Homo sapiens: one gene and its partners. The protein of the gene in region 4 purifies or fractionates together with the protein of the main gene of each other region. This does not show direct contact. Each region holds a gene or a part of one and is shown on either strand. Other genes may lie near its edges. The genes, in order: CAD, UQCRC2, VDAC3 and ATP1A1.

Region 1 (8,023 bases), on a different chromosome or scaffold from region 4:
CCACTGCTCCAGGCTGGGGGTGCCGGAGCACGACGACGTCGGCATAGCAGCTCATGGTCTGCACGGAGTCAGCCAGGGATTCGCCCTTCTGGACGGACGATGTGGCTTCCGAGAAGCTGAGCACAGCACCTCCCAGCCGGGCCATGGCTGCTGCAAAGGAGCTGCTGGTCCGTGTGCTCACTTCATAGAACATGGAGGCCATGACCTTCCCCTAGGGAAAGAGCAAGATGGAAGGTGTACGTATGCGTGTCCACCCTGGGGAAACCCCAGCTAGGCACCACCACCCCAACTGACACTTGAGGGGTGCTGTGAGGACCCTTCTGCACCCAAACCTCCCCTGTGACCTGTCAGAGCCTTGACGTTTCCACCACTGGTGTCACTCTGAGCTAAAGGCTCTGCCTCCAGAAAACCACCCATCATTAAGTGTCTGAACGAGCTGGGAAAGGAGGACACACCCTAGCTCTCTCCCATGATTGCAGCAGCCCAGACCAGAAGACCCCACTAGTGGGGCGATGGTCTCATGCTCAGGGCCTCCCCAGCCAGCTAAATCCTGCTTTGGGGAGGGAAAACGTGGGGGAAGATCTACAGCAGCAGAGGGATGGACTAGCATAAGGGGACGGGATGGCAGGGGGAGGAAGACCCACTCTGACCACTGCGCGGCCCTGCGCTGATGCGGCCCAAGGGCAGGCGATGGCCTGGACCCTACCCCCGGCCCTGATCCTGACCTTCAGGATGTCGAGGCTCCGCTCCTTCTGCACCATCATACGCAGTGTGTGTGCCACATTGAACAGGTGAGACATCTAAGAAAGAGCCCAAGTTAGCTAGAAAGGTCCTAGCCCCAGCTTTCCAAATCCTCAAAGCTCTGGGTGGTCCCATCCTCCCTGCCCCAGGCACCTGATCCTTGGTGAACTGCTGGACGGACAGGATATGTTGGCCCACTAATGAGTGCAGCAGGGGTGAGGTCTGGGGGTGCAGCAAGCCAGGGGTCCCCAGGTTCTGGGGAGATGCCTGTCTCGGTACTGGTGGTGGAGGGTAGCAGGTGCCATCAGGGGTTCCCATCAGCTCTGCAGTGAGGGATGGGGCAGAAAAGGCTGGTCAGAGGGTTCCTCCTACCAAGGCCAGATCAGAGGTCCCCGAGGTGAGTGTGTGTCAGGGTGGAGTCTCACCTGGCTCGGCTACCTTCCGAGAGGACTTCTCCTTTGGCTCCTCAGCTGCAAACAGGACAAGAGGACAGATATACATTTATGGCTGAGGTTTGGAAAGAAACCCCATATTCCCAGGAACTCTGAATCACAGTGTATATGTTAAACCAATTCACAACACAGTAATATAGCAGGTTAGGGGAGGGCAGGGGACTGCAGCAGCTCTGGGGACAGACAGGTGGCTTCCCATGGGGCTGTGTTGTATGGGAGCAGTGGTGCCCTCCCGGGGCTCTCCCAGTTGGCAAAGGCATCCTAGGCAAGAGGAACGGCCAGACTCACACCAACCAACAACCTGGATTTACCCCACGCTCTGCTGCCCCGTGGGATCCCAGCTCCTGGGCGGAGGAACACAGCTGCCCACAACAAAAAAGGGCATGTGAGAAGCTGTGAGATGTCTACTCACACCGGGGAGACTTGTTTAGGCAAAGGATGGCACGGCAGATCAGACGAGGATAAAGGGATGGAGAGGAGGACATGTAAGTAGAGAAAGGCGAGGCACTGGGAAGAAGTGGATCCTGTCCCTACACAGTCTCTGAGTCACAGGAACCCCACTCTTACCTGGCAAACCTGGGTCGGAGGCTCGATGGATTCGGGGCGGCAGATGGAAGCGGCCATCAGGAAGCCCTGGGATGCCACGGCGGGGTCTTTCAGGTGTCTGGAGGGATAACGTTGGCCCAGAGTTGTTTTTTTTTTTTTCTTTTGAGACGGAGTCTCGTTCTGTCGCTCAGGCTGGAGTGCAGTGGCGTGACCTTCTGGGTTCAAGCAATTCTCCTGCCTCAGCCTCCCAAGTAGCTGGGATTACAGATGTGCACCACCACGCCTGGCTAATTTTTTTATTTTTAGTAGAGATGGGGTTTCACCATGTTGGCTAGGCTGGTCTTAAACTCCTGACCTCAGATGATCCGCCTGCCTTGGCCTCCCAAAGTGCTGGGATTACAAGTGTGAGCCACCACATCTGGCCTGGCCCAGCATTTTAAAAAAATAATTGACCCAACCCCACTTCAAATTCAGTCCCTCAAGAAAACCCCAATTGTTCCTGAACCACCAATGAAAATGTTCAAGCTGTTCATCCTGCCCTGAGACTAACACCTCCCAGCCCCCTAGCCCAGTAGTGTGGATACCGTGGTCATCTCACTAGTGGCAGGGGCTGAGGGTGGGAGCTGAGGAACAGCCCCCTGTGGCCACTTCCGTACATCCTGTCCATAGCCCGGGGGTACCAGAACCTGCAGGCAGAAGGCAGGGCACTCAGGAGGGAGCAGAGAGAACTCAGGTCCTAAAGGGGTAGATGTCAGCAAGGACAAAAAGCACCTTGGGGGAGCTGTGCCCCCAACCCCTGGTCCAGGGCAGTGGTGCACATAGTGGGACAGTGTAGATGTGCTGGGAAGGGAAGAAATGAACGTGGTGCAGAAGAGGGCACTACTGAGATCAGGCAGGGGCTACTTGCGTACCTGCCCATCGATATAGGCAACCTCCCCTCGCAGGACCACACGGCGGACGGTGCCCTTCACTTTCTGCCCTTCAAAAGGTGTCCAGTGGGCCTTGGAGAAGGGCATGTGGCTGGGAATTGTCCACTCATGCTCCAGATCCACCTGCCCAGAGGACATGGGTTATGCTAGGGAAAGGATCCCCAGAGAACATATCCTAGGGCTGGAGAGCCCCCCTCCTGCTCTGGGCCTCATCCCCACACCTCCACATAGGTGTCCTCCTGCGGGGGCAGGTGAAAGATGCGCCGAGGATTGTGGTGCAATCGCTGCAGCAGGTCGTCCAGGCTGAGCCGGCCCTCGCTTACAGCCGTCAGGAGTAGTGGCAGCATGGTCTCTAACCCTGGGAACCCAGGTGGGGGCCTGGACCCACACTTCTCCTCCAAGGTATGGGGAGCTGGGAGAAAGAAAGCCATTACCCTCAGGACCAATCACCTCCATGTCTAGGAAGTCACTCACACCCCAGGACTGCACTTCCAACAACCTCCTTATGCTCACTACCACTCCCAATGCTCATTTTTTCTGGGAACTAGAAACAAGGGCAACAGGACTGCTGCCATCTTCTGGAGCCCACACTTTTACCCATGTATTCTTTCACTTGCAGTTCTACTCACTGGCTCATTCATTCTTTCAACAAGTATTTATCAGGCACCTATCACAGACCAGGTACCCTAGAGGCTAGGGTCCCATACGGATCAAGACCCTGTCCTAGTAGAGTCCTGAGGCCTGGCCTGCTTCCCATTTTCTTGCTAGGGCTGTCCCACAAGCCCCACTGGGCAGAGGAGGTACATGCTGGATTCTCTCACCATGGTCTGAGGCAAAGCAGTCGATGACAGCCATGTTCTCCCACAGGGCTTCCACATCCTGGCGGGAGCCAAGCTCAGGCCGGACCTCCCCCTTCCCAGGCCCCAGGCGCTCCAGGTCATCATGGCTTAGGAACAGGTGGTGGGGAGCCACCTCGCAGGTCACTGGCAAGCCCCGTGCCTTTGCAGCTTTAATTAGCAGGATCTGGGGAACAATGGGAAGATCCAGAAGAGGCACCACCCATATGCCTTGCCCTACACAAAGTCCCAATGGCCAACATCCCTGCTCAAAAAATGATGATGTAGACCTGCAAGGGTGCTGGCTCGAGACCCTCCTCCTGCTGTCTCCAGACTCTCCTCCTGCTGTCTCCTGCCCCTAAGGACTACCCTGACCTTTGGTGTTACTGGGAAAGCAACAGGGACAGCAGGATCTCAGGTGTACTCTTACCTCCTCCTTCCGTGCCACGTGACATATGTGCACTGAGCGCTGAGTGAGCTGAGCCACCATGAGGACAGCAGCCACGGTTTGCTGCTCTGCGTGAGCCACAATGGGGAGGTGGGAGGGCCATGTCTCGAAATGCTGGGAGCAGAAAGAACTGATGAAGGAGTGTGCAGAATCTCTGACTGTGCTCATCAGAGCCCAGAGTCCCCAGGAGCTCCCCTGAATCCTCACTGCTACCAGCCCACTTAGGCAGGGGCCCACAAGCCAGGAGACACTGGGTGGTGGCCTCCTGCCACATGCACACTCCCTACCTCCATCCACTGGACCACGCTGTCCAGCCGCAGCTCAGAGAAGGTCTCATTGAGGTAAAGCTTCAGCCCGGCTGCAGACCCGGCCACGGTGCCCAAGGTTCCTGCATTTTCAGACGAGGCCCCAAGGAATAGCGCAAAGTCGCACCGGGCGCCAGCCTCTGCCAGCTGGAGAGGATACACAGAGGTAAGGCTCACTGGCACCCATGCCCACACAGGCTAGCCTGGCACCAGTGGCCTGGGCCCATAGGGCGGGGCAGAAGGAAAAGGGCTCAGGGAAGCAAGGGTGGCTGGTAGGGGCATATGGGTCTCCAATACCAGGAAGAGTGCAGTGGCTCACCTTCTGGGCCAGGGCCAGAGCAGGGGCGTCAATGATGGGGGGCCGGGTATTAGGCATGGCACACACCATGGTGATACCCCCAGCCAGGGCAGCGGCTGTGCCTGAAGCAAAGTCCTCCTTATGTGTCCCACCTGGTTCCCGCAGGTGCACATGGACATCAATCAATCCTGGGAGAAAATGGAAGCAGCAAGATTACAGGAAGATTCAGAAATAGGAAGGGTGAGCTGGACATGGTGGCTCACGCCTGTAATCCTAGCACTTTGGGAGGCCGAGGTGGGCAGATCACCTGAGATCAGGAGTTCGAGACCAACCTGACCAACATGGTGAAACCCCGTCTCTACTAAAAACACAAAAATTAGCCTGGTGTGGTAGCACACACCTGTAATCCCAGCTACTTGGGAGGCTGAGGCAGGAAAATCGCTTGAACCTGGGAGGCGGAGGTTGCAGTGAGCCGATATCACACACCACTGCACTCCAACCTGGGCGATGGAGTAAGACTCTGTCTCAAAAAAAAAAAAAAAAAAAAAATTCCTCAGACAAGGCCACTGTGGACACTGTGGATTAAGGAATGAAAGAGTGAGAAACATTCTGGGGTCTTCACAGTCTGTGCAGTCCAGGACAAAGAGTGGGCCCCCCAGCCATCCTTCACCACACTGCAGGTCTCTATGCCAGGGGCTGCCAGTGTTCAGAAGCCAAGTTCTCCCCAAAGACTTACCCGGCAGTCGCACAAGCTTTTGGGAGGTCATACAGTCAACATGCACCTTCAAAGGAGGGGCTGGCCCGATCTGGCCTAGGGCCTGCAAGTGGAAAGCAGTCAGCTTTAAGGGAAGGGTGATCCTGGGAGTTGTAGGGAGAGATGTGGTTTTCCCATAAACCAGGCTCTGCACACTCTATACCCACCATCTCTCCCTCTGTAGCCACAAAGCTTTATTACTAGCATGGCTGTTCCATACTCACTCCTCCCTCTTTCTTCTTCCCATCAACACTGGCAGTCTCCCTCCCAGCACATGGGTCTCAGTTACCTCCACAAAGAGTTTGGTGCACTTGATATCGATGATTAGGGGCACGGAGAAGTCAGCGGCCAAGCGTCGGGTGCGGTAGCCCTTGGTGACAAAGGAAGAGAGACGCCGGCCCCCAGCTCCACGCATTGACAGGTTAATCACCAGCTCAAAGTTTTTCTCAGCTAGCTGCTCCAGGATGCTCCGCTGTGGTGGGCACTCACCATCCACAGCCTCCTCAAAGTGCCAGTCCACAGCTGTTACCTGCCAACCCGGAGTCAAGGTCAGGGCCAAGCTGTCTGGCAGCGGTCAGGAAGGCTAGCCTTAAGGGAGAGGAGCTGGCCCAGGAGCCCATGATGAGGAGACTGAGGACCCATAGGGTGGGCACTGAGGGCTGCCTCTATTTGATACTGGCAAAGTGTATTTCTTGGCAGGAAAGATATCTACACTAAGTAAGATGGGTTACCAAGGACTAGGTGCAGTATGAGCTCACACACATGTACACAGAGAAAATCCTGGAAGGAAAAATATCAGAACAGTGGTACAGAGATTTTAAGAGACTTTTCTCTTTGCTTCCTGTGTATTCTGCTTTCTGCATGGAATATAGCTTACTAGTATAATGGTAATAATAAAAGCAGGGGAATAGGAGATAATTCTTTGTTTTTTTTTTTTTTGAGACAGCATCTCACTGTTTCCCAAGCTGGAGTGCAGTGGTGCACTCACTGCACACTCGCAGCTCACTGCAGCCTCTACCTCCTGGGCTCAAGAGATTCTCCTGCCTTAGCCTCCTGAGTATCTGGGACTACAGGTATATGCCACCGTGCCCAGCCCAGATAATTCTTTGGTGCAGTATTTTCACCCCCTTGGGGAAGGGCAGCAGTGGGGTAGGTTGCCAGAGTTCCTGCACCTTGACGCCATGCTCAGTGTAGAAGTCAGCTGTGCCGAGACTGGCATAGAGGCTGTAGCCCAGGCTCTCCAGTAGCCGCACAGTTGGGAGCAGCTCGCTTTTGTTCTGAAACCAAACAGAAGGATGAAATTGTTTTCTTCCTGTCTTCCATTTCAAGGTCAGCCCTGGCCCAGGGAGCCACGGCCCTCGGGAAGCCCTCCTGGATTCTGATACCTTATAGCTGCCAATGGTCAGCAGGATATTCTTCTTGGGGATCTTAAAGCCAGTGCTTAGCATGGCCTTGAGGTATGCCTCACAGCGGCTCTCCCCAAAGCCGGCCACCTCCCCAGTACTGGTCATTTCCACACCCAACACCACGTCAGCACCCGCCAAGCGGGAGAAGGAGAACTGAGGCACCTAAAGGGGCGGGAGGGAAGAGAGAGGGCCAAGGTGTGAGAGGACCTCCTCCCTCACCAGCAGAGACGGACACAGTACCCTGTGCTTGATCCCATCTGAATGGCAGGGTCAGCCTGCCCTCTCTGTGTGCCCTCCTGCTTTCCAAACGTACTTGGGGTCATCCCTCAGCTTCTGCTTAGGATGTGCCCTTGCAAATAAAAAACCTTAACCATCCTTCAAAACTCAATTCAAATAGCACCCCTTCGCTCAAGCCTTCCCAGATCACCCCTTTTGGAAGCAGCACCTCCTGTCTCTTGAACTCCTGCAGCATTCTGTTTACAGGTCGAATATGTAGTTTTACCACGGACTGTTCTATACCAAAGCTTTTTTGGGGATCCAACTTCTCTTCCCTCCCATTACCATAAAGTAAGCTCTTAAGGGACAATGACCACCTCATTACCCCCACGATCCGGCAATGCCTTGCAGTCAGTGCCTGGTTTACATACTGACAACTCTGTGTGGTGAGTGAACTCTCTCCCGCTATTTTTCTGCTAACCCCAAGGGTTTCGATATTCCTTACCTTTACTCCCACGACTCCAGAACCAGTCATTAGCCCCACAGGTTCCACTTCTTCCCCCATGATGACCCGCGTGGCCAAGGCTACTAGGTCCACACCCAGTGTCTTGGAAACGAAGGGGAAGGAGCGAGAGACACGTACGTTGCATTCAATAACTTTCAGCTGGTCATCCTGGGGCAGAGAAGACTGGTCAGGCCTTCTGCAGGTTGGCCTTGCTGACACTATCTATAGGCCTAGACTCTTCCTCTCCGTCCTCAGCTCTGGGGGATCAGACTGAGCAGGGTTCAGGGTCACTGACTGTCATAAGCCCCAACACCATGAGCTCTAGCTACAGCCCTTTCCCTCCAGCTTCCCTGCCTACTTGGATGAAGGCAGGAGACAGTGCAGGGCTTCATGGCACTGTGGCCAGCACAGAACATGCAAGAGCTGTGGCCCTTTAGTTCTTTCCTTTAGCCTTATTACCTTGGCAATGAGCTGCAGATTGAAGGGTCCTGTGACCTGTAGCTCCTGGCCCACAGCATGCACAATGGCTTTGATCCGCTCCAGGGTTTTGGCAGTGATATCTTGTGGGGGGGTCACCAGCGTCGCAT
Region 2 (8,023 bases), on a different chromosome or scaffold from region 4:
CCAACTTTGTCCCAAGTCTGTCTCTTTTAGAGAAACCCTCGAACTACTAATGAATTAGGAGTGTTGATAGCACTTTCAATCTGGACAGTGGGGATTTATAAATTGCCAAATAGCAGACAAGTATTTTAGTCTTTCTTATAAAACAAAACAAAATCAGATCTTTTTTGGGTATAAATTAGTTATGAAGAAAGAAACTATTGTAGAATAGGTACTCTTATATACTGGTGGTATGATTATAAACTGGTACAATCTCTTTAGATTTGTGACTTAGAAATACATTTTTTTTTTTTAAGAGACAGGGTCTTGCTCTGTTGCCCAGGCTAGTGTGCAATGGCGTGATCTTAGTTCACTGCAGCCTCAAACTCGTGGGCTCAAGCAATCCCCCCTCTTCAGCCTCCTGAGTAGCTGAGGCTACAGGCACACACTACCACACCTGGCTAGTTTTAAATATCTTTTTGTAAAGACAGTGTCTTGCCACATTACCCAGGCTGGTTGAACTCCTGGCCTCAAGTGATCCTCCTGCCCCAGCCTCCCAAAGTCCTGGGATTACAGGTATGAGCAACTGCGCCTAGTCAAATGTATTATTTAAACATACACACATACACACACTCTAACATGGAGTCTTTCGTTATGTTTATAACTCTTAACTTAGTTGGGAATCTACACCAAGAAAGTAATACGAAACACAAAAATATTTTAAGCCCAAAGATATCTTTATAACTGCAGAAAATGCACAAGTGTATTTTGACACACCAATGAATATTGTTTAAATTTTTAGTAATTTGAATCAATGGAAACAGAATCATTGCTAGGGAAATCAGAGATCATTTTTGTCTTTTATTTGTAATTTTCAAACTTCTATAATAAGGATGCTATTTAAATAAGATAAAAAAGTATACAGATGGTCCCTAACTTAACTTATGATGGTTTGACTTATGTTTGTTTGGCTGGATGACTGGGTTATTAGGGTATTAAATGCATTTTCGATATGCGCATTTCTCAGGACGTAACCCCAGTGTAAGTCAAGCAGCATCTATATATACAATATTAACAATTATGTTTAAAAATGCATGATCAATAAACTAAGAAAAATGTTAACAATTATTCTCTAATTTTGGTGGAGACGAGGTCTTGCTATGTTGCCCAAGCTGGTCTCAAACTCCTGGTCTCAAATGAACCACCTGCCTTGGCCTCCCAAAGTGCTGGGATTAGTGAGCCACTGTGCCTGGCCAAAATGTTAACAATTATATCTTTAGGTGGTAGGATATGGGTATGTTTCCCTTTTTACGCTTTTCTGTACTTCTCAGTCCTTATGAGCATAGATTGTAATATTGTTATAATCTGAAAAGAATACAACTTTCAAATAACAAAAACATAAAACACAGTTAATACTGAGACTTACTTGGCAGCTTGGACATCTGTGTTGGAAAGGTTTCCTTGAGCTATTGTTTTTACTTGATTATAGGCAGCCTTGATAACCTAGGACAGATAAGAAAAGTTGGTCATCTGTGGTCAGTACCAGAGTCTCCTGCAGCACTGACACACTTCTTTACTGAGGCAAAAACACAGATGGAAGGTTAGTTCCAGACAAACAGCACAGTGTCCATGCGGAATGCTGTCATCACTATGGGTTCCTTATTCTTCCTATGTTCATAAAGCAGCTGTTTATACACAATCCTCCTGCCCCAGCCTCCCAAGAAGCTGGGACTACAGGTGCATGCTACCAGGCCTGGCTAATTTTTTAGCTTTTTTTGTAGAGATGTGTGGGCTCAAGTGATCCTCCCACCTTAACCTCCCAAAGTGTTGGGATTATAGGTGTGAGCCACCACACCCGGCCAAACACATGGATTTCTAATCACCCATAAAGAATAAGCACCTTTAAAACTTCCCCAGACTCTTGCAGTGTCATGCCATTAATACTGCTATCTCTTACTATTCACTAAGAAGAGAGTAGTAATCCATACACAGCCAATTTGTAAGGCTTGTCCATACTTTGTAAGCCAGGGTCAAGAAGGAATCTGAATCCTTGTATGGTATTTAAAAAAAGAAAGAAAGAATAAAGTTCCGGGGATGTGGGTACTTGGTAAATATTTGTTGAATAAATAAATAAATCTGACCATGATTTTCTCCATCCCAGTGCTGGCTGGGTCTGCTACTTATTTTTCCCTCTGATCACCTAAATTCTAGGACCTCTGTTTCCCCTTCATTTTAGCTGCCCATTTTCAGAGCCACACCCCAGACCTGATCATAGCCTAAATTTGCATACCTCTGAAGCCCTCAATTCTAAGACCCCGACCTCAGTCTTTAATCTCACTATCCTTATTCTTCCACTTTATCAAGATCTCTAGTTCCTTGACTTGTCCAGTCTTTCAATTTATCAGGCCCCCTCTGGCTTCACTTCTCTATTGAGCCTAGATCCCTGAATCATCCTTTTAATCACTCTTGCCAATGCTCCCAACTCCCTTGCTATCTCCTCATACTTCTCACCTGCCCACTTTGCAGGATTCCAACCTGGGATTAACCCTAATACCTACCTCCTCCATTTCTCTATTAGGCTTCTGAATGCAACTGAAGAAAAATTACATGACAGTGCTGACTGACTGTACTATGAATTTGTGGTCGCTGATTTCAAGGATACATCTACACTACAGCGAATACCCACTTTTTGTGTACCTCACTATTTGTCTGTCCCAAACTTCACTACTTTCTTTAAACTTTCCTCTCACGTCTGTCAAAACATGACTTAGCCTCCTGTCTCACTGAGGAGGTACTTCCCCATCTTCCCAATATCTTCCAATATTAGCCTGTCTGTAAGGCTAAAAGGTCCACTTGTGTGCTGGATCCCAAGTATTCCTTTCTCAGACTTGAGCCATTTATAATTTTCTATCTCCGATATCTGCTCCGATCTTTTTGCTCAGTATGTCTCTTTCAACCTAATCTCTCAGTGTAAACTCTCCTAAAACAACTTGCTCCTTGAATGTCTAAGCTCCACTAGCCCACACCAACCTCTCATTTCTTACTTGTCATTCATTCCTTAATCACTACACATTTTACCCAATTTCCACTACTCTAGTCAAAACTGTTAAGATCACCCATGATGTCCTAGCTTGCTGAAACTACCAGACTTCTCAGTGGTAATGAATGTTATTTCACTGTGGGTCAAAATGGTGTTAAACATACTCTCTTTCCTATCCTTCAAATATATCAGCTTCTCTTTTTCTTTCTGTTTACCTGGGCCATTTTTCTTAGCCACTTGCTCCTTAAATGGTGTTGTTTCCCAGAAATTGAGCTTTAGTTTTCTTTTCCTACAATCATTCACACATATCCCTGATTTCAACACAATCTCTACACTGAAGACTTGCAAATAAACCTCCTGGTCTTCCCCTCTCCTGGGTTCTCAATTTAGATGTCTCAGAGCCAACTCAATGCAACTTGTCCAACCAGAACCAAAACATGAAGGAGGCAATTCTCTCCTCTTTCCTGGAAGCATTAGTATACATGTGTAAATTTCCCTATAGCAGATAATGCTTCAATGACATCATACTATACAGAGCTCTGATAAGTCATTGCACTGCATTCAAACATTCCATATTTTAACCGAAAACATGTTTATGGCGGGGGGGAGAAATAACTTGTTCATGAAAGAAGTTTGGTGAGTTTGCAACTTACATCTCCAGCAGCTGTGGCCTGGGAGATAGTATAAATCCCAAAGAGTCCAGAATCTGAGTAACTGGCATTAAATGCAGAAACCTGAAAGATAATGAGACTTTACTGTATGATATTCTACCAAGTAAAACAGGGCACGATTTCTTTAAGTTTGCCTAGAAAAAACTTGGACCTTCACGGTATAAACAAAATAGATTAATATTTTACTTAGCCAGTTCTGTCACGAACTGAAGTATTCTGTAAATAGGTTACCTCTTTCAGAACTATCACGGCTTTGTTTTTTCATTTAAATATTTCTAAAATGACTGCTCCCTTTCCTTTATGCTGGGTATTTTCTAACCTGCTTTAGATGATTAAAGGTTTATGCAAACACTAATCTGCAAACATTATTATTATAATATAGATAGGCTTTGGCATTAGGCAGACCAGGTTTCTTCTCTCTGCTGTTGGTAGGGACTTTTTCACCAATTTACTTTCATTTCTCTTATACACTCATGTCAGAAAGTTAGAGAAAAATTTCTGCTTAGTGGTCATTATCCAGATGTCCAAGCTATCAAGAGTTTAACCTCTGAATAACAGGGATATTGTTATCTAGTTTGAGCAGAGCTTTTAGCTCTCTAGGGTGAACCCGATTTGCAGTGTTTATGTGGACCATTTACATAAAAATTATCTAAGTTCTTATTAAAAATACAAACTTTCAGATTCCCAAAATGGACCTACTGACTCAGGTCCCTGTGGATGCAGCCTGGAAGCCCAGATTTTTAACAAGTGTTCCAGGTAATTCTTATGTACAATAAACTTGGAGAACCATTGGCTCAGTCCACGTAAAGCATAAGAAGGCACTTCAATTTCTTTTATTTATTTATTTATATATATTTTTGAGACAGAGTCTTGCTCTGTCACCCAGGCTGGAGTGCAGTGGCACGATCTCAGCTTACTGAATCCTCCGCCTCCTGGGTTCAAGTGATTCTTCTGCCTCAGCCTCCCAAGTAGCTGGGACTACAGGCGTGCGCCACCACGCCCAGACAATTTTTGTATTTTTAGTAGAGACAGGGTTTCACTGTGTTAGCCAGGATGGTCTTGATCTCCTGACCTTGTGATCCGCCCAACTTGGCCTCCCAAAGTGCTGGGATTACAGGCGTGAGCCACTGTGCCTGGCCTGGACTTCAATTTCTTTAATTATAATTCTGAGGCCATCCTATTTATACTCTAAATTTCTGGCTGAGTTCTGAACTAGGAATTTCTATTAAATTACTTCATTGGATTAGGAGAGATGGGGGTTTCACCACGTTGGCCAGGCTGGTCTCGAACTCCTGACCTCCAGTGATCCGCCCACCTCGGCCTCTCAGAGTGCTGGGATTTTAGTTGTGAGCCACTGTGCCCAGCCTCTCATTTTTCTTTTCAAATTTAATCTCAAGCTGAATGAGTGAGTCTGTAAACAATTTCTTGGTGTTCATCTTGTCCACTTGGTTGGAAAACAAATAGTGAGATTCAGGAAGTAACCAAAAGAACAGAAGCGGACAGAAGAAAATCTAGAAAAAAAGACTAGTTAGAATCTAGGGGAAAGTTTAATATCTACAACTTTATTCTAAAGGGAACGGATGTGTGGATTCCCTTTATTTCTAAGCATTCAATTCCTCTTTTTATATTACTAATGACAAGTAATAGACAAAGTGGAAAAGCCAGTGAGTTTTTGATAGGCCTTCAAAGATACTAAAATCAAGCCTGGCTATCTCTTCAATTGTACAAAGATTTTCTGTGTGTTTGTCTTACATTTTAAGAGTAGATTATCAGAATTATATCTTAAATACTGAGCCTTTGAAAGCAAAAAGAGAGATACCAACTGTTCAGACTCACATCAAATGGCTGCTGAGTTGCCTTGGCAACAGCCTGGTGCAGATGGCTGGTGGTGTTGCTGCCCCTCTTGACATGTGGCCCAGCACCGAGGACATGCTGAAGAACACTAAATGCATTTGCCTCTGCACTTCCCGCGACAGCACTTTCTGCTACAAAAGCAGCATGGACAAGACTGTCTCCATTCTGTTCTCGGATTTCACCTGGGGCCAGATTAAGGATAGAGGGAAGAAGAAAATGGCTTGTTCACCATTGGTTTCATTCTCCAGTATTTCCTACAACACAGTATTAACCCACGAGTCTTTTCTGCAGCTCGGTGCTTTCCCCATGCCATCCTGTCCCCAAACACACACAAAACATATGCTCAAAATACAACACCCAAGCCATCCAATTCTATGCCGAGACTGTTCAGTAGTAAATATTCAGGCCTATTCCACCTCAATATGCTATTCTAGTGGGGAAACGCCCTTCTGATAAATTAACCCTAATAGAATGAAATGCTTACCTCCACGGTAGTTGGCCTTTGCACCAGATAAACCAAGCCCACCCCTCATGTTGAGAAACTGTTCAGCAACTTGCTTTAGAACAGGATGACTCACACCTGTTTCAACAGAAGCAAAAACAAAGCTAGAACCACAATTACTAAAACACAATCGTAAAATATTTTTTCCTTGTTTTAAAAATACGATTGTAAAATCCTAACACTACAAAATAAATAAGAGTCTTCCTGCCATAATGCCACTCTCCCAGAGATACCCAATTACAGTTTACTATTACTAAACTATTTACTATATACTTAGTATTACTATTCATCTAGAATTTTCTGTGTAGTTAATATTATCTTCAATTTATTTCTAAAATGGTATCATTCTATTGATATTGTTTCTAACTTATCTTTCATAATTTACAAATTTCTAAGTGAGTAGTCTACATCAAATATTTAATGGTTATAAAGAATCCCTTTCTATGGCTCTACCACCATTTATTTGATCAATCCCCTCCTAATGGACGCTAGCATGTTTCTAATAGTTAGCTCTTAAAACAACATTGCATTGTCCATCAAAGAACACTGTATCAAGAAAGTAAAAAGAGGACCCATGAAATGCAGGAAAATATTTGCAGATAATATATCTGCTAACAGCTTGAGTAACCAAAATATATAAAGAACCTTTACAACTCAACAATTAAAAAAAAAAACTTAAAAATGGGCAAAGACTTGAATAGACATTTCTCCAAAGTTGACTGGGCACGGTGGCTCACATCTGTAATCCCAACAGTTTGGGAGGCCGAGGCAAGTGGATCACCTGAGCTCAGGAGTTCGAGACCAGTCCAGCCAACATGGTGAAACCCCATCTCTATTAAAATTACAAAAATTAGCCAGGAATGGTGGCATGCACCTGTAATCCCAGCTACTCGGGAGGCTGAGGCCGGAGAATTGCTTGAACCTGGGAAGTGGAGGTTGCAGTGAGCTGAGATTGCGCCACTGCACTCCAGCCTGGGCAACAGAGCAAGCCTCTGTCTCAAAAAAACAAACAAACAAAAAAAGTTATACAAATGGACAAAAAGCACATGAAAATATGTTCAATGTCATTTGTCATTAGGGAAATACAAATCAAAACTACAATGACCACTTCCCACCCAGTAGGTTGTTCATAATCAGAAAGACAGACGATAAGTGTTGGTGAGGATGTGGAGAAATCAAAACCTTTGTGCATTGCTGGTGGGAATGTAAAATGGTGCAGCTACTTTGGAAAACAGTCTGGCAGTTCCCCAAATGGTTAAACAGAGTTACCATATGTCCTGGCAATTCTGTTCTTAGACATAACCAAAAGAACTAAAAACAGGTTTCCTAAGAAAAATGTACACGTGAATGTTTATATTTACGACAGCCAAAAGGTAGAAACAACCCAAATGCCAATCAATGAATAAACAAAATGTGGTAATGGAGTATTCTTGAGCCATAAAAGGGAATAAGACATTGAATTGACACATGCTACAATATGGACGGACCTTGAAAACATTATGCTAAGTAAGAAAAGCCAGTTACAAAAGGCCACATATCGTATGACTCCATTTATAGGAAATGTCCAGAATAGTCAAATCTATAGAGACAAAGTAGATTATTGCTACTTAGGAGGCTGAGGTGGGAGGATCACCTGAGCCTAGGAGTTCAAGGCAGTGAGCTATGATTGTGCCACTGTGCTCCAGCTTGGGCAACAGAATGAGACCTCCATCTCTTTAAAAAAAAAAACAAAAACAAAGTAGATTAGTGGATGCCACAGGCAGGGGGAAGATGAGAATGGGGAGTGACTGCTAATGGGTATGGGGCTTTTGGGGGGATGATGAACACACCCTGAAATTAGGTAGTGGTAATAGTTGAATCTGTTAAAAACCACAGAACTATTCACTTCAAAAGGGTGAATTTTATAGCATGTAAATTATATCTTAAGCTGTAATTTGCAAAACAAAACAAAAAATATTACAAATGATATTCTCATGCAAC
Region 3 (8,023 bases), on a different chromosome or scaffold from region 4:
CACATAGTTTGCCCTTTGCTTTTTCTTCCTGGTATAGTAGCAGTGTCCAGTAGGCTCAACATAAAATACTACGTAAAAGTTCTGATTCATCCCACCAACATGGTGCAGCCTACATAACTGAATCCCAGGACTCTTTCAGAGCACCTGTTACTTCTGAATGCATTAGCGGTACCTGGGTTCCAACCGAGAATACCAGTACCTGAAACCTCCACAGAATTACCGGGATGTCCCAGGATGCTCAGATCAATTTGGTGGTGGTTGTTGGTGACCAAAACAGACCTGCTTCCAGATACTGTCAAGATGAGAGGGCAGCAGAGGAAGCAGTAACATCTCCAAAGGGTCATCTTACCATGAGGTAAGCCATGCTCTGGGCTCCCTCTATCCCAGTGGTTCTTCTACAGAGGCTGGAGCTTCCTCAAGTTTGGGGTGCAGGCTGAGGGGCCAGTGACCACCAGCAGCACAGCCTGCACACCACGTGCACCAGCCTCCTGGCAAGGTTTTGCTATGAGGATAGCACCGCAAGGATGGATATTCACCAAGGCATGCTAAATCTGAGTACCATCACTTCTCAGCATGCTAATGGCTACAATATTTTGGGCAACTGCACTGATACTAAGGAATAAATTATAAACACTCACACATGTGTGTGCAGCTGGAAGTCCGCAGCCTTGTAACCCAGGGCGAAATTATTCTGTGACAGTTTGGATTTGGCTGTGTCAAAACTCATCTGATAGCCAGCAAGCCACCCTTCGAAGGCCAACACAGCCCAGCCATAGATGGTTGGTCCAGAAAAATCTATATCAACATTACTGCCAACACTAAAACAATCCCGTTTATAGGAGGCCTTCAATTTCCCACTCTTCTTTCTGCAATAAACAAACAAACAAAAGCAAATGATGAAAACAACATGAGTTCTTACTACTGTCTAGGAATTTTTAGAGTAAGATCCTCTCTCTCATCTCCCAATGTAAATATTATTTTGGTACATGCCACATATATAGTAAAAACATTTCAAATGACCTAGTTCTACAAATATAATTTTGTTAGGATTAGACATGTATAGACTACTATCATCTATTACTCATTATAAGTTCAAATGATAGGATACTTCATGATTTATTTCATAAAAGCATGAACAAAAGTATAAGAATGAATAAGAGGCTGGGTGTGGTGGCTCACACCTGTAATCCCAGCACTTTGGGAGGCCAAGGTGGGCGGATGACGAGGCCAGGAGATTGAGACCATCCTGGCCAACATGGTGAAACCCCGTTTCTACTAAAAATACAAAAATTAGCTGGGCGTGGTGGCACACGCCTGTAGTCCCAGCTACTTGGGAGGCTGAGGCAGGAGAATCACTTGAACCTGGGAGGCAGAGGTTGCAGTGAGCCAAGATCATGCCACTGTACTCCAGCCTGGCGACAGAGCGAGACTCGTCTCAAAAGAAAAAAAAAGAATGAATAAGATATTTCAGTGCCAAATTAATAATCTGAAGGTGTATGTATACAGACGTACAAGAAGCCAAATCTCTTTAAATGTTTCCAAATGCCAAATGCCACAAAGAATTAATCCCCAATATACATTATTAACCTATCATGGAGAGAAGCATGCTTTTTTGAAGGACAATACTGAAAAAATGAAATTAGTTCTTAATAACCCTATTCCAATCAAGCCTCTTGTAGGAATATTTGTCCTGGCCGGGCACAGTGGCTCATGCCTGTAAGCCCAGCATTTTGGGAGGCCGAGCCAGGCGGAACACGAGGTCAAGACAGAGACCATCCTGCCCAACGTGGTAAAACTCCGTCTCTACTAAAAATACAAAAATTAGCTGGGCGTGGTGGTGCATGCCTGTAGTCCCAGCTATTTGGGAGGCTGAGGCAGGAGAATTGCTTGAACCCAGGAGGCAGAGTTTGCAGTGAGCTGAGATAGTGCCACTATACTCCAGCAAGACTCCATCTCAAAAAAAAAAAAAAAAAAAAAAAAGAAAAGAATATTTGTCCTAAAGATAACTGAAGTGTGTGGCAAAAAGAACACACCTGTTGTTACGGCTGAGACAAATGTCACTTTGCATTCATCTAGCAACCTCCGTCCTTCAGATAGCATGGACCCACATTAGGCAGATAGGAAATGACACAATCCCCCTTTTTTTCACGAGGAAATTGAGGTCAAGAAGTTGGGGGATTTACAGAGGCTAAGAAATCAAGTAGGCAGCAGAACTAATCATTATAGCATCTGAGAGCCAGATCACCTTCTTAAGAAATTAACTTTTCAGCACCATAAGAGAGGGTGAGGGGGAAAAAAAAGGAATTAACTTTTTTTTTTTTTTTTGAGACAGAGTCTCGCTCTGTTGCCCAGGCTGGAGTGCATCTCGGCTCACTGCAAGCTCCGCCTCCTGGGTTCATGCCATTCTCCTGCCTCAGCCTCCTGAGTAGCTGGGACTACAGGCGCCCACCACCATGCCTGGCTAATTTTTTGTATTTTTTAGTAGAGATGGGGTTTCACCGTGTTAGCCAGGATGGTTTCCATCTCCGGACCTCATGATCCGCCCATCTCGGCCTCCCAAAGTGCTAGGATTACAGGCGTGAGCCACCACGCCCAGCCAAAAGGAATTAACTTTCTCAGCAGAATACCATGTCCATCAATCTTCAGAATTGCTTAAGATTCATCTATGGTCTCAAGACTCTTCTAGCTCCTAAATTTTTTCTACCATGTGTCTCTCTCAAATACATTTATACATTTTTGCTCATCTATTCAGTTTTCAAATTGTTCATCCTGCCTTGGTGGGGAGGGATCTTCCTTTATCTGTATTACCTATACAAGGTCTCCAATATTCCTTATAGCAACCTTCTGAGTTCTTCCTGCCTCTGAACTTTGCACTATATCTCCTTATTCTAAAGCTCTCTACCCTTTCAGGCTCCAAAAACGTTTCAGGAAATGGGATTTGAATAATTACCCTGTGTTCGGTACAAATATGGTATCAAGAGTCAGTTTCAACCCTTCAGCCAACTGAAAAACAAAGATTTAAAATAAATAATTAGTAATTTTCAATCATTTATCCAACTCAAGAAACCAATTCTAAAGTTTCCTGAGTTCTTTAACAAAAAAAAGGAGTCATTCAAGAAAGCAAAATATTAAATTATGTAATAAGTAAGCTCTCCATCCTCCTGTCCCCTCACCCCAGCCTTCATCATGGTTCTCCCACTAAAAAATGGGGCAAATCCTATTTTAGCAAGTTACATAAAATACAGTTCAAAACCAAACAGAATTCCCATACAACAAAATCATCTTGATACTCTCTTGAAAGAGCAGTAATGAGATAACCTGACATTTAACAAGCAGGCTAAGTCATTTTACTCAGTTTTGCATGTACATTATCTATACATGGTATCTCTATCAAAAACAGTGCCCTGTACATAGTGGGCACTTGACTATATCTAATAGATTTTCTCCTTGAAAACATGAGAACATTTTAGAAAAATTTTTCTGTCAAGCCAATTTTTCAACAATTACAAAACTAAACCAAATTTCCGCAAATAGTTTGTTCTACCCAGGAGAAGCTTAGCTGTGTAACAGAGAACCAGTCAGAACAAAGATGTAATATAGTAATTAGAGTACTCACAAACAAAGCCTTATTTTCTAGAAACATAAGACATCAAAAAAGGCCACATGCAGAGAAAAAATATGGCTACTAGATAGGTTGTAAGATCTCTTTTGATTATATTTGGGGTATGTTCATCATTCAATCTACAAGATAAATTGAACCTATGAATAACTTCTAATGCGTTCTCTTACCTTATTCTCCCAAGAGATTTCTGTCCCTAGAGTATTGTCTGTGTTCCATTTCTGGGTGAAGGTAAGTCCATAGTTACAGACCTTATATTTGGTTTCTAGGTTGCCTGATGCTTTCCCTGTATCAGTGTAAGCATGACCAGAAGTAGAAAATTCCTGGTAAGCAAGAAAAAATAATTACTTTAAAATTAGCTCATCAAATAGAAAATATTCACTTTGGAAAGCAGTGTTCAATGTATCAAAAACAATACCATTTACTGCTTGCCACAGCCCTACTCTAGAGCAACTTCTTTCCTCCTTTCCCCTTGCTTTTCCAGTCCCTAAATATTTTAACCAGTTCTGCCAGGCGCAGTGGCTCATGCCTGTAATCCCAGCATGTTACGAGGCCAAGGCGGGTGGATCCCTTGAGTCCAGGAGCTCAAGACCAGCCTGCGCAACATGGCAAAACCCCATCTCTACAAAAAATACAAAAAATTAGCCAGGCATGATGGCACGTGACTGTAGTCCCAGCCTGAGCCCAGGAGGCAGAGGTTGCAGTGAGCCGAGATCATGCCACTTCACCCTAGCCTGGGCAACGGAGTGAGACAGCTCAATACCAGTTTCAGATCTTTCCATTACTCTACTTCTCTTATTAATATCTCTTGTTCCATATACTCTCTTACCAAATGGTAATCCTAAATTCTCTCCTTTAAAAAAGAAGTATCTTTACTGAAAACAAATGCCTTTACTAAAAAGACCAAAAATATTGTATCTTAAACATTTTACTTTCATGACCTAAAAAAAGATTATCAGTTCTCTGCTATATGTTTCAAACTATCAGTTAATTTCAAGGTCCTTAAAAATCCCAAAATACTGCCCTCCTCCTTTTTAATAGGGTCAACACTTTACTACTTCCTTTTAAAAATGTTTTTTTTTATTGTGGTAAATACATGTAACATACATTTTACCATTTTAATAATGTTTTAAGTGTACAGTGAAGTGGCATTAAGTACAGTCACACTGCTGTGAAAACTTTAATGCTTTTGTGTGCAAAACTGCAAAACTTCTGCTTAGACAATTTCAATATTTGAAAGTACTACCCATTTTTCAAAATAAAGTAGAATGCTATAATTTATCCTTCTTTCCCCCTTTCTATCCTGTCTACCTTTAAGAGTGCTTTCTATCAAACAGTTACTATGAATGAGACTCTGTCTCAAAAAAATAAAATAAAATAAAATACATCCTTTGCCCTAGTTCAGTGCCCTTTAAGTCATATGACAATAAGCAATTAGAAATGGACCTCCTTCTGGGGAAAGCAGACAGCACCTGTCACTGACAATCTATGAACTGTCAAGAAAAAACATTCTGATTGGTCCTGTTTTAGGGAGCATTTCTGAAATCCTGCCAACAGTAATGAGATGCTGCCAACCCTGACCAGTCTTTTTCACTGCCTGCAACATGAATCCTCTCCTTAACAAATGCCCTGTCCCCTAACTCTAGTTCTACAGGCAGATGAGACAACTGGGAAGTTATGTTCTGTTTATCAAACCACACAGAATGGTTTCAAAGAGAGTATCATGCTGCACATTTAGGGGAAGGCCTTAGTAAAAAAAAAATGATAACATGTTAATCATGTTTAACTGTTCACATAATTATTTTAACGTGACAATCATTTTTCTTTTAGTAGATCCAACTATCTAGTGTTTTATTTTTTACATTTACTTTTCACAAACTTGACAAGTATAACAAATGCAAATCTTAATTTTGGTGCTAGAAAAACCTTATGCACAAAATTAAGGTAGAGGGGTAGTCTACATTTCTCCCTTGTCAGCATCAATTCTTAGTTTGAAGGTCTGTCACGAATCTAAAATGCCACAGGTACAAATCTCAGAAAAAAAGGCTAGAATTGTTCTAAGTTGAGTTCCAGGCTCACGATTCACAGTTCAGTTTGTGTCTAATTTCATAATTTGGTCAAACAAGTGCAAAACACATTTATAACATGCATATAACATGCATATAGCTCTACATTAAATGCTTAGTAAGCAACAAAACAAACAAAAATGTTACTGTTAAGTAGATAGCATATGAGAAAAATATCAAGACACAATCTAAGAAATTTGGAACAATGATTGAAATTTATCCTAAATCAATACCAGAAACCAAAAGCAGCCATAAAAACAAGCATACGAATAAGCTTTTTTTTCTTACCATCTGAATGAATATTACCACACAACAGCAGCATGAAAGGGAGATAAAATTTTAGTTGATAATTTTTGCAACACAAACCTAATGAGCAAATTCTGGAACCTACACAAAATGAGAATGATTCTTCTATTTTAACAGAACTATATACACAGCGTGCCCATCTTAGTAAGGGAGGTGCATATATATTTATTTACTCCAGAGAAACCCAGGGAAAGAATGATGGTCACAAACCATGATTATACACAGTATCATTAGAATTCCACATGTCTTTGTCCTTCTAATTATACATTCAGAAATAAAATTTTCATGGGTTTGAATGGATAAATACCAAAAACGATGCAGCCAATGAGGAGAAATCAGAGTAAGGTAAATTAAAACTTAACCTACTTGCTGAGATTTATTAAATAAAAGCAATTTTTTCTGAGACGGAGTCTTGCACTGTTGCCCAGGCTGGATGGAGTACAGTGGCACGATCTCTGCTCACTGCAACCTCTGCCTCCTGGGTTCATGCCATTCTCCTGCCTCAGCCTCCCAAGTAGCCAGGACTACAGGCACCCGTCATCAGGTCTGGCTAATTTTTTTGTATTTTTAGTAGAGACGGGGTTTCACCATATTAGCCAGGATGGTCTCAATCTCCTGACCTCGTGATCCGCCCGCCTTGGCCTCCCAAAGTGCTGGGATCACAGGCGTGAGCCACCGCACCTGGCCTTTTTTTTTTTTTTTTTAAGACAAAGTCTCACTCTGTCACCCAGGCTGGAGTGCAATGGCTTGGTCTCGGCTCACTGAAACCTCCACCTCCCAGGTTCAAGAGATTCTCCCGCCTCAGCCTCCCGAGTAGCTGGGACTATGTGCGTGCCACCACACCCAGCTAATTTTTGGTATATTTTTAGTAGAGACGGGGTTTCAGAATGTTGACCAGGCTGGTCTCGAACTCCTGACCTCATGACCCGCCCACCTCGGCCTCCCAAAGTGCTGGGATTACAGGTGTGAGCCGCTGCACCCAGCCAAAAGCTATTGTTAATGATACTTTGAAAATATGCCAACATAGCCTTTACTGTAGTCTTTACTTCCAATAAAAAAAACTTTATAAACATCAGTTAAAAACTGTAGAATAATGTACATGCATACGTGCAGAAATACATTTTATTTACATATTTTGTTTCGACTAATCATGAAGGGGCAGAGTAAAGTTAATTTGTTTTTGTAAAAGGGTAATAAAATTTCCATGAACCCATTATCATGGAAGTGAGGTTTTTGGTGCCCATATACATATTCATGAAAGTATAAACATATGACATGGGTCAAAAAATATATATTCTACATCTTCTGAGTGAAAGCTGTAGTATACTCTGAGAAACACAAAAGGTCTCTTCAAAAATTCAACTTGGTTGTTTATTTTAATTGGCTAAGAATGCTGTTTAAAATCTGAGAGGACAAAGCTGTGGGGAAGACAGCATGGTGCTGGTTCAAGTAACTAGACTGTCATGATTTTAAACAGATTCCTTTAAGTTAATTATGTTACATTCATTAAAAATATATTAGATACTCACCACTCCACTACAAGACTTGGTTTTCAGGTCTATCTTGACCATGCCAAAGCCTATACACACACACACACAAAAACACAGTAATGTACAAAATGTGACATTCACTAGTTTTTGCAACTCAGAAATTATGAAATAGCCTATAGTACCTTCCATATGAAAAATGCATAGTATTTTCATTGGGTGAGAGTTCCTCAAGAAACTGAATTATAACCAAATAAATGCAGTATAATTTTCAAGCACTCAAAATGAATAAAGATATACTTTTAAAATGTAAGTTAAAGAAAAAAATAAATGAAAGGAATATGCACTATTCCAAGAATCAAAATTGCTGAAAATAGTGTGCTGCTATATATATCGTTTAAAATATAGTTAACATTACTAGTTAATAAGAAAAAATCAAATATGTACAGCACATAAATTTAAGTTAAATTTTAAAACCTAAAAAATATTTATTTAGGATCAGAATATACATTACTCCAAAGAAGTCAAAAGTTATGTTGTCACTT
Region 4 (8,023 bases):
CTTCCCTACTGAAAGAATGAAACTAACTTTACATTATTAACTTAGAGTGCAATATTGTGCTTATGAGTCCGCATTCTCAATCAGACAGCCTTGAGTTAAAATCCTGGGCTTTACCACTTACCAGCAGTGTATCCTTAGGCAAGTTACTAACTTCTACATTTCAATTTCCTCTTCCACAGCGTGGAGATAAAGAATAGTGCCAACCTCATTTCATGTTTTTAAGGATTAAATGATACAATACATCTAAATGCTAGTACTTTTATACTGTTTATATTCTTTGCTTTGCAAAGACATTATTACATATCAAATTTAAATATCTTTAGTGCTCACATAAGAACACTGACCTTTACCAGCTTCCCATATTAAAAAGTCAGCCTAAGACTCCTTAAAATTCTTTGCATAAGAGATAAAAAAGGGAGCGCCCAGCCCATTCTGTAGCCTGAAAATAAAACCTCCAAAATGAAAGTCTCTGGAAATGTTTTGACATAAGCAGGATGTAGGAAAAGCGTGTGCATTATCACATAATTCACAGGATCCACCTACGCCTCTTGAAAACTGGAACAATTTTTAAAGAAAATGTTGATTCTATAGTTTAAATTTAGATTGTTCCACTCCCCCACCCCTGTTGAAAAATCCTTGAGCTTATCTACACAAAGCCTGAACTTGGTGCTCCAAAGCTTAGCGGAGCAGAAGAGCCCCTTGTTCCAGACACCTCCCCCTGAAGCAGCCTCCCACAACTACAACTTAAGGCCAAAAAGTAGACATTAGCAATTTTCTTAAAATGCATGACATATGGTGCTATTACTATTATTTTGTGGTTCTCCTTTACTCATTTCTAACTTTCCTAAGTGCATTACCAGCTACTAAAGCAATAATTAGGAACTCGTGTCCAGATTATAATTTCACTGTGCTGAAATGAAAAAAGAAAATCAAAACGTATTATGTGTGTTTCAGTCATAACTAATAGTTGCAAATAAAATACATTGTTCACTTAAATTTAAAAATATCCTCTTAAGACTCCAAGGAGAAATCCTTCTCCAAATTCACTGGAGTGGGCCACATGTAGAGACACATTATTTACCTTTTTAACTTCTGTGGTCACGTGTGCAGCACTACTTGACTAATAACTTCTTCCAACTGGGTGGGTTCTTTAGTTTCTATCTTATCTATTAATGAAGCAGGTCTAAAGATAGTCAACATTCTTGACATTCTCTCCATTATGGAGCAACCACATTTGTTGGTGCCTCTTTCGGTACAGCTCTTGGTGCCAGAGTTTAAATGAAAAATAGTAACACATACAAGTGGACAAATAAAACAAAAAGGAAAAGGCAGGTCATCTACCAGAAAGGAACCACAGCTAAAGTGGTATATCTTTAGCTTTAATTAAAGGTATATCATACCTTTAATGAGAAAGCACAACACTTAAAAAACATTTTAAAGACATTGACTAAGGATCTCTAAAAGATTTATGTGACCACTTTGTATTAATTTTCTTTTTTTTGGGGATGGAGTCTCACTCTGTCGCCCAGGCTGGAGTGCAGTGGCGCAATCTAAGCTCACTGCAACCTCCGCCCAAGGGTTCAAGCAATTCCCTGCTTCAGCCTCCTGAGTAGCTGGGATTATAGGCGCTCGCCACCACGCCTGGCTAATTTTTGTATTTTTAGTAGAGACGGGGTTTCACCATCTTGGCCAGGCTGGTCTTGAACTCCTTACCTCATGATCCACCCACCTCGGCCTCCCAAAGTGCTGGGATTACAGGCGTGAGCCACCGTGCCCAGCCTGTATTGATTTTTAAAATACAGCTCACGGATTCTCTCTGAGCAAGTTGAATATCATTGAAATATATTTCAATAAATGAAATAGTTATAACCCCTCAGCTTCATAATCTGCATGCTTTGCTTATTCTCAGACTTCCAATATCTTCCACTCCAGAAGAGGAGAGAGGATTACTAGAGCAGCTAGGCTTTGAACACGTTCCAAAGTTTTACCCCCACTTACAAAATAAATGTCTTGCCCATAGCTTCACCACTATCAGTGCTAAAGTTAGTTGGGAATTTAGATTCCCTAATAACTCTCCTTTTTCTTTATCCATTCATGCTAGGTAAGGCAAAGTTTTAAATGAGGCTATTTGTGGGTGAGACACATGGCAAGTATTAACAAGTAAAACTGCTTTTTCTTCAAAATTTTAATTTTTTCACTAGGCAATGTGTGTCTAGAAGAACCAGGCAGCTTATACAATTTAGTTCTTCTCCACAAGTAAAATAATAACTTAATATTAGCTTATTCTTGTGGGAACCAAATATCCTTAAATCCCTATCAGTCTCAATTACCTCAGTCTCAAAGCTGCAAAATTCAGAGTCAGGGAGTGCACACTGCGTGAGATGAACAGTGGTAGAATCAGGTAGGACAATGTTTCCTTATTATTTTTTAAGGCATTAGGGAAAAACAAAGGTCATGGGAAGGGTGAATGATAAATACGGCATTTCCTCAATCAACTACAGTAATCTTCCCACTCATCTGGGCATTGGGCACACACTTCCTACTTTTTCAATTAGAAAGTTCAGGTCACTTCCCCCCTCCCAGAGGACTGGGAGTGATTAATCCTCACTCTCATCATGTTCCATGTAAGGGCACCCCCGCCCCTTTGAGCATCTCTGAGGAAAGGTACAATGGAAACTCAACGGATTACACTATTTTCTAAAGGGCCACTCATAAAAATGAAGTTGGGTTATGGTTTTTTTTTTTCCCCCTTCCATTCTAATTTAGGAAGTGGAAAGTCACAGCAAGGGCAGGGGCTTACCCACGGTGACACAGCTTAGCACAGCGTCATCATTTCATCCTGTGCTTCCCATGGATTCTATCCTCTCAAAGATTAACTAAGCATTTTGCTATTTGATCTGGGTAGAGGGAAAAGGTGCCCAAGACATGAGAAGATAAAATTCTTGACAGGAGGAACCAAGGTTAAAACATGTAACAAGGTTCACTCACTTAAAAATATATACCGAATCCTCACAGTCCTCACAATGAGTGAGACATCCCCGAGACTTGCTAGAGCTGAAGATGTTGCTTCCTCTTTTTTGGCAATTAGCCATTTAATGGGGACAGGGTTGGGGATAGATATGACAGATTTAGAAATTATCCCAAAATAAGCAGGATCTTCCATCCCAGAGGTATATTGCTTCAGGTCTGCATAAGCTATAGCCACCGCCAAAGGCCTTCATACCCATCCCAAACACCAGCCTCCAACAGGGCAGGATGCGAAGGCTTTCTCAACCTGCATTTTTCCCACCATATCAGCACAATGTCCCATGGCCAGCAGGGAGCTCAGAATTCTTGAGACTTCTGAAATTCCTGCTGAAAAAGTTTAGAGGGTACTTGAAAGTTCAAGACCCACCATTCCCTCCAGACAGGTCTGCTAATGGTGTTGAGTCTGCCAATTTATTCTAGTGTTGCCACATGCTGGCTACATGACCTTTGCCTGTCAGCCTTAGTTTCTTCATTCCTAAAATGGGAATAACACTTGGTATAACTATTAAAGAACCTAGAGAAGGCATTTTCATAGTCTGATTAGTCAAGAAACCATTAACTCTGAAAAATAAAACACCTTAAAAACTGGACTATTTCCAAAGCCCACAGACAAAAGCTTTTGACGGGCAAGAAGGGCCAGAAGGATGGCAAAAGGAAGTGCCCCAAATGCAGCCCATTTCGGAGTTGCCAAGAAGATTGTAGAAACAACACCTCTGGACATGATTTGGCAAATACCACTTTAGCAGGAAAGTTGTGTGATGGACTCTGACCTTGCTGGTTCCCTAGAGGCTGCCAAGTCTGGGCTACCTTCAATGTAAAAGGTAAGGGGGAGGGGTGCTTTCTCATTTTCCTGGTCGATACATTATTAAATCATCCAACACAATTGTGTATGTAAAAGTATTCTCAAAGCACTACACAAAGGCTATTATTATAACTTGGTCTTAATTAACATATACATTACTGCCATTTTTCGCTTTCTATGAAAATTCTTTTCAAACCTTTGAAGAAAAAACTCCTTTGGCATTATTTTTCATTTGATCTTAACAGTGAAAACTTAAAGAAAATAACAGTCAAGAAATGATCTAGCCCAGTTTATTACATCTCCATTTGCTCCTAAATGACTAAGTAGTTTAGTTTATGTGCAAGGAATTGTCTAGCCAGGGACTGGAGGGCTAAGGGATGGCCGGGGTTGAGGGAGGACACTGTCATAGTACCATGGCTGCTATCCAGCCCCAGCAGCAGCACATCACTGCAGGAGCAGCAGTTCTCTGCAGAGGAGGTGAGCCTGAGGGGCCACCATGCCTTCATATTCCTTCTCTTGCCCACCCAAATATGCATCCTGGAGAATATAATTTACCAAGGCCAAAGCAGTAGATCCCTTTGTGAGCCCAGTTTAGTATATCCAAACTTGGGCAGCCCAGCAGCCAGCAAGGGTCAAAGAACAGCGACAGTTCTAGCCAGCAGGTTCCCTCAACCCAAAAGAACATGACTTAACCTTCCTCCCCAATCTGCCTGCATGTCAATTCTTAATGAGCCTGACAGCCTACCCTACCTGCAGTAGTGTACATCCATGATCATTCAAAAAATAAAAATTCTAAAAGGTGTAAAGAATCAGTGCACTTTAGATATATTTTTGCTTTTACAGTTATTAAGAACAATCAGACAAAAACTTCAGTTTCTTCAATGGAAAATTCTACCTCTACATTAGGTGCATGGGTTATGAAGGGTTAAAACTTTCTACTTATTCCTTAACTCCCCCTTTCTGCTGACCACCTTACCCTCCTTTTTTTCATTTTACCAGATTGCTCTGGTTAGAGACAACTGATTAATAATCAGCATATGCGTTATGAGAGGACCAGATCAACTCCCAGTAAGTCCTGATCACTCCTCAATTAGTACCCTGAAGCCTAGGCTAGGAAGGAAAATGACTGCCAGGCTGAAGAGGATAAAGGCTGTCCAAGGCCCTAAAGAAATGTCACATGAATTGAAATAATAAAACAAATATGGTGCCATGGAAGCATCATGTGGAAGATAAAAGAAACACACAAGAGGATAACCCCAAAGTGCATTAGGGACCTGCCCCTACATGGTAACAGACTAGAAAGAGCAATCACAGCTCACCGATCTACACAGCAAGGCCCACTGAGTCACAAAATCTTACACTGATTATCAGGCTCCCAAACAATACAAGTCCCAAGGACAAAGCACGAACTATCATGAATCAACTTATCAAATCACTGAGACAGCCAATAGTCATTACTAAATAGGGTTTGAATAAAACTGGAAAGAGATCACGTGCAGATATATTTCATCATAACTCACAAAGGAACTAGTAAGTGAGGTCTAAAACCAGATAAAGAGATTCACTGTAAAGTCACAAAGGAACAAAGGAATGAGGTCTATTGATCAAAAATCCCTTTGCTCAGGATGCAAATAAAAACCAAACCAAAGAGAAAGTGTAGGGTGAAGGGTACTTCTTTCGTAACAGAATCTGCTATCCGAAACACAAAATAAATATGAAGAACTTCTTGTGGATTCCTGACAACAGATTTCAGCACAACTAATGAGGTGAGTCATATGCTAAGAACAGTCTCTCTATGACTCCAGCCAAAGAATACACACTTCCTCTCATACACTCAATTCATAGCAACGTGAGAAAGTTCAGACCTGACTAGGTTCCACATCCCTCCCCCAAAATATATAAATGGAGAGTTTTAAAATGAGTGAGTAGGTTTTACAGTTCTCTCTACTGCACATTATCATGTACTGGACATGTACTTTCAGTGTAATCTAGAATTGGACAGCTCTGGCAGGGATGGGAAACATTTTGCCTGGTGCTTTGCCGTCCAAACCCAGCCACTCTGATTACTGTGAGCCCATCTGATCTGACACTCGGGTTTCTTCTTCTAGCCTGTTGGCTGGCAGAGAGCCCTCGGCAGCTAGAAGAAGTCAGCACAGCACAAATGTTCAGGCTCCCTCTCATCACAGAAGGCCGAAAAGCCCATTTTATTTTGCAAGACTTCAAAAACGTAAAAATGATCATCAACCGCGAACAAAGTCCTTCACCTGAGAAGTGAAAGTAGACAGAAAGATGCTATTAAACAGGAGATTTGCTTGTTGAGCGAAGATAACAGTTGCAATAATGTCAATTGACACCTCTACTTGACTTTCCTATGAAGGGCAATTAACAGTATTTCCCATTATTTTCAAACCTTAATATGTTCTCATGGTGAAAGAAAAACTGCTCTCTAATTTTGCAAGGGCTAATGACTTACTGACGAACAACAAACCCAGTCTGTAAAGATTTGATCTTCTCTTGGCTCTAATTACTGTACCTATGTAAGCCCAATAACAATAGCCACAACTCAGGCTGGCACAGCACTCCTTCCATAAACAGAACATAGATTACTTCACTTGATCCCCAGGATGAGCATTCTATCCAAAAGCCAGATGAGAAACTGAAGCTTCAGGGCTTTTATTTTATTTTACTTTTAAACCTGTTTGTTTTTAAGTGAAGAAACCAATTTTACTTTACCATACAAAATCCTTCAAAGCTATTTTAGTTAAAGCCTTTCTTATTCTTAAGTTTAGATATATTTAAAAGAACATAGCCTGATTTGAATGGAAAGTCACTTATCTGTTCATTTGTTGCTAAAATAATCCGAAAACAATGACTGAGGGTACTGGCATGGAGCATGGATGAGTGCCAAGCCTATTGTGCTATAAGATGTTGAGTTCACTTTTATTTTTGAATGCAATTTAGGAATAACATTCCCAGGAATCTGTATATTTTAAGTGTTAGCCCTCATCTGGGCAAACATCTAACTGAATTTTTAAAGGCATCTTTTTTTTTGTTTTTTTGTTTTGGTTTGTTTTTTGGGCTCTCAGGTTTACCACTCTCTCCCCATCTTCCCAGGTTTAGGAGGCAGGCCTCTCCCTTTCCTACCCTCCCACCCGAAGGTGAGTCACTAGAGTGTTACAAGCTTACTGGCAGGGAACACTACAAATTAACAAACAGTAAGTTACCAAAAGGGGATACACCCTTATAAAAGGGTACAGAAAGAACCTAAGAAGCAGGGAACTGTTACACGCTGAACAACTGACAGGCAAAGGGTGAGGCACAAGTGCTCTCTCCACCCCCCAGCTCTAGGCACTAGTTCTTCCTGTAACTTGCTCCACTAGCTCCCGGCCAGGCCCGGGCAACTTTCCACTCTGAGGCATCTGCCTTACAATGCTTTAAGTCTAAAGTACTAGCTTTATAGCAGCCAGAGGAGCTTTAGTCACACTTTCAAGCTGAGCTCCAAAAGGGCAGCTGATAACATTACCATACAACCAGGATTTCTGCTGACATGTGCATCCCCCCTGCCACCTTCACTGGAACCTTTTTTCCCTGCCCTTCCTTAAATCACTACTCATAAGCTATGATTTATTTTTTCGGTAAATAATATTCAAACTAAATCCGGAATGCAGTGAAAGACCTGGTGAGACCCCCCCTCCTCATCTTTTACACACTTGAGAAGACAAACTTTCCCACATTTCTAAACAGTTATGGCGTGTACCTTTGGTGAGTGAAACAGTTGCCGGTGGTAGGCCTAGCTGACGGTTTAAGCCAAGTCACTGGCAATAAAACCCAGAAAGAAAAAAAGGGACAAAATCCTATTTCATCCAGGAATGATTCAGCAAGAGCTGTTCTTTCATTTTCTTACCAAATGCTTAGGAACTAGACTTTTAAGGACATATAAAATCACCTGAAATATCATCAAAAGCTAGGCCACAAAGGGTACTGAGGAGAGGAGGGGAAGAAATTTACAATGACCTTAAAAATTAGCTGCCGGCACAGGCTTCCTTGTTAGCCAATTATCAGCAGGGCTTTAGTCACTCTCCACCCACATTTTAATCCCCATGTGGAAAAATCCCAACATGAAATATTCTTCTGAACATTTGGACGCTCACAATAAGTCACAGGACAAACACACACACAAACACACACACAAGT

Evidence for each region.
Region 1: the proteins of ATP1A1 (region 4) and CAD purify together in Homo sapiens (affinity purification with mass spectrometry; 2 studies listed by BioGRID, with this or other methods). This does not show direct contact.
Region 2: the proteins of ATP1A1 (region 4) and UQCRC2 purify together in Homo sapiens (affinity purification with mass spectrometry; 2 studies listed by BioGRID, with this or other methods). This does not show direct contact.
Region 3: the proteins of ATP1A1 (region 4) and VDAC3 fractionate together in Homo sapiens (co-fractionation; 2 studies listed by BioGRID). This does not show direct contact.

What each region holds. Positions count from the first base shown.
Region 1 is NC_000002.12:27,234,099-27,242,121, reverse strand, and holds part of CAD (multifunctional protein CAD), read right to left. Parts: coding exon 7,896-8,023; intron 7,605-7,895; coding exon 7,437-7,604; intron 6,878-7,436; coding exon 6,695-6,877; intron 6,587-6,694; coding exon 6,482-6,586; intron 5,839-6,481; coding exon 5,599-5,838; intron 5,374-5,598; coding exon 5,292-5,373; intron 4,744-5,291; coding exon 4,577-4,743; intron 4,405-4,576; coding exon 4,240-4,404; intron 4,067-4,239; coding exon 3,935-4,066; intron 3,692-3,934; coding exon 3,490-3,691; intron 3,081-3,489; coding exon 2,890-3,080; intron 2,792-2,889; coding exon 2,651-2,791; intron 2,426-2,650; coding exon 2,324-2,425; intron 1,858-2,323; coding exon 1,761-1,857; intron 1,556-1,760; coding exon of another isoform or gene 1,505-1,555; intron 1,212-1,504; coding exon 1,167-1,211; intron 1,065-1,166; coding exon 895-1,064; intron 801-894; coding exon 726-800; intron 212-725; coding exon 1-211. UniProt on the Homo sapiens protein: Multifunctional protein that encodes the first 3 enzymatic activities of the de novo pyrimidine pathway: carbamoylphosphate synthetase (CPSase; EC 6.3.5.5), aspartate transcarbamylase (ATCase; EC 2.1.3.2) and dihydroorotase (DHOase; EC 3.5.2.3).
Region 2 is NC_000016.10:21,969,623-21,977,645, reverse strand, and holds part of UQCRC2 (cytochrome b-c1 complex subunit 2, mitochondrial precursor), read right to left. Parts: intron 6,122-8,023; coding exon 6,026-6,121; intron 5,724-6,025; coding exon 5,524-5,723; intron 3,751-5,523; coding exon 3,670-3,750; intron 1,480-3,669; coding exon 1,403-1,479; intron 1-1,402. UniProt on the Homo sapiens protein: Component of the ubiquinol-cytochrome c oxidoreductase, a multisubunit transmembrane complex that is part of the mitochondrial electron transport chain which drives oxidative phosphorylation.
Region 3 is NC_000008.11:42,394,631-42,402,653, reverse strand, and holds part of VDAC3 (non-selective voltage-gated ion channel VDAC3), read right to left. Parts: intron 7,571-8,023; coding exon 7,521-7,570; intron 5,977-7,520; coding exon of another isoform or gene 5,974-5,976; intron 3,943-5,973; coding exon 3,790-3,942; intron 3,004-3,789; coding exon 2,951-3,003; intron 867-2,950; coding exon 639-866; intron 1-638. UniProt on the Homo sapiens protein: Non-selective voltage-gated ion channel that mediates the transport of anions and cations through the mitochondrion outer membrane and plasma membrane.
Region 4 is NC_000001.11:116,375,652-116,383,674, reverse strand, and holds part of ATP1A1 (sodium/potassium-transporting ATPase subunit alpha-1), read right to left. Parts: intron 306-8,023; exon of another isoform or gene 122-305; intron 1-121. UniProt on the Homo sapiens protein: This is the catalytic component of the active enzyme, which catalyzes the hydrolysis of ATP coupled with the exchange of sodium and potassium ions across the plasma membrane.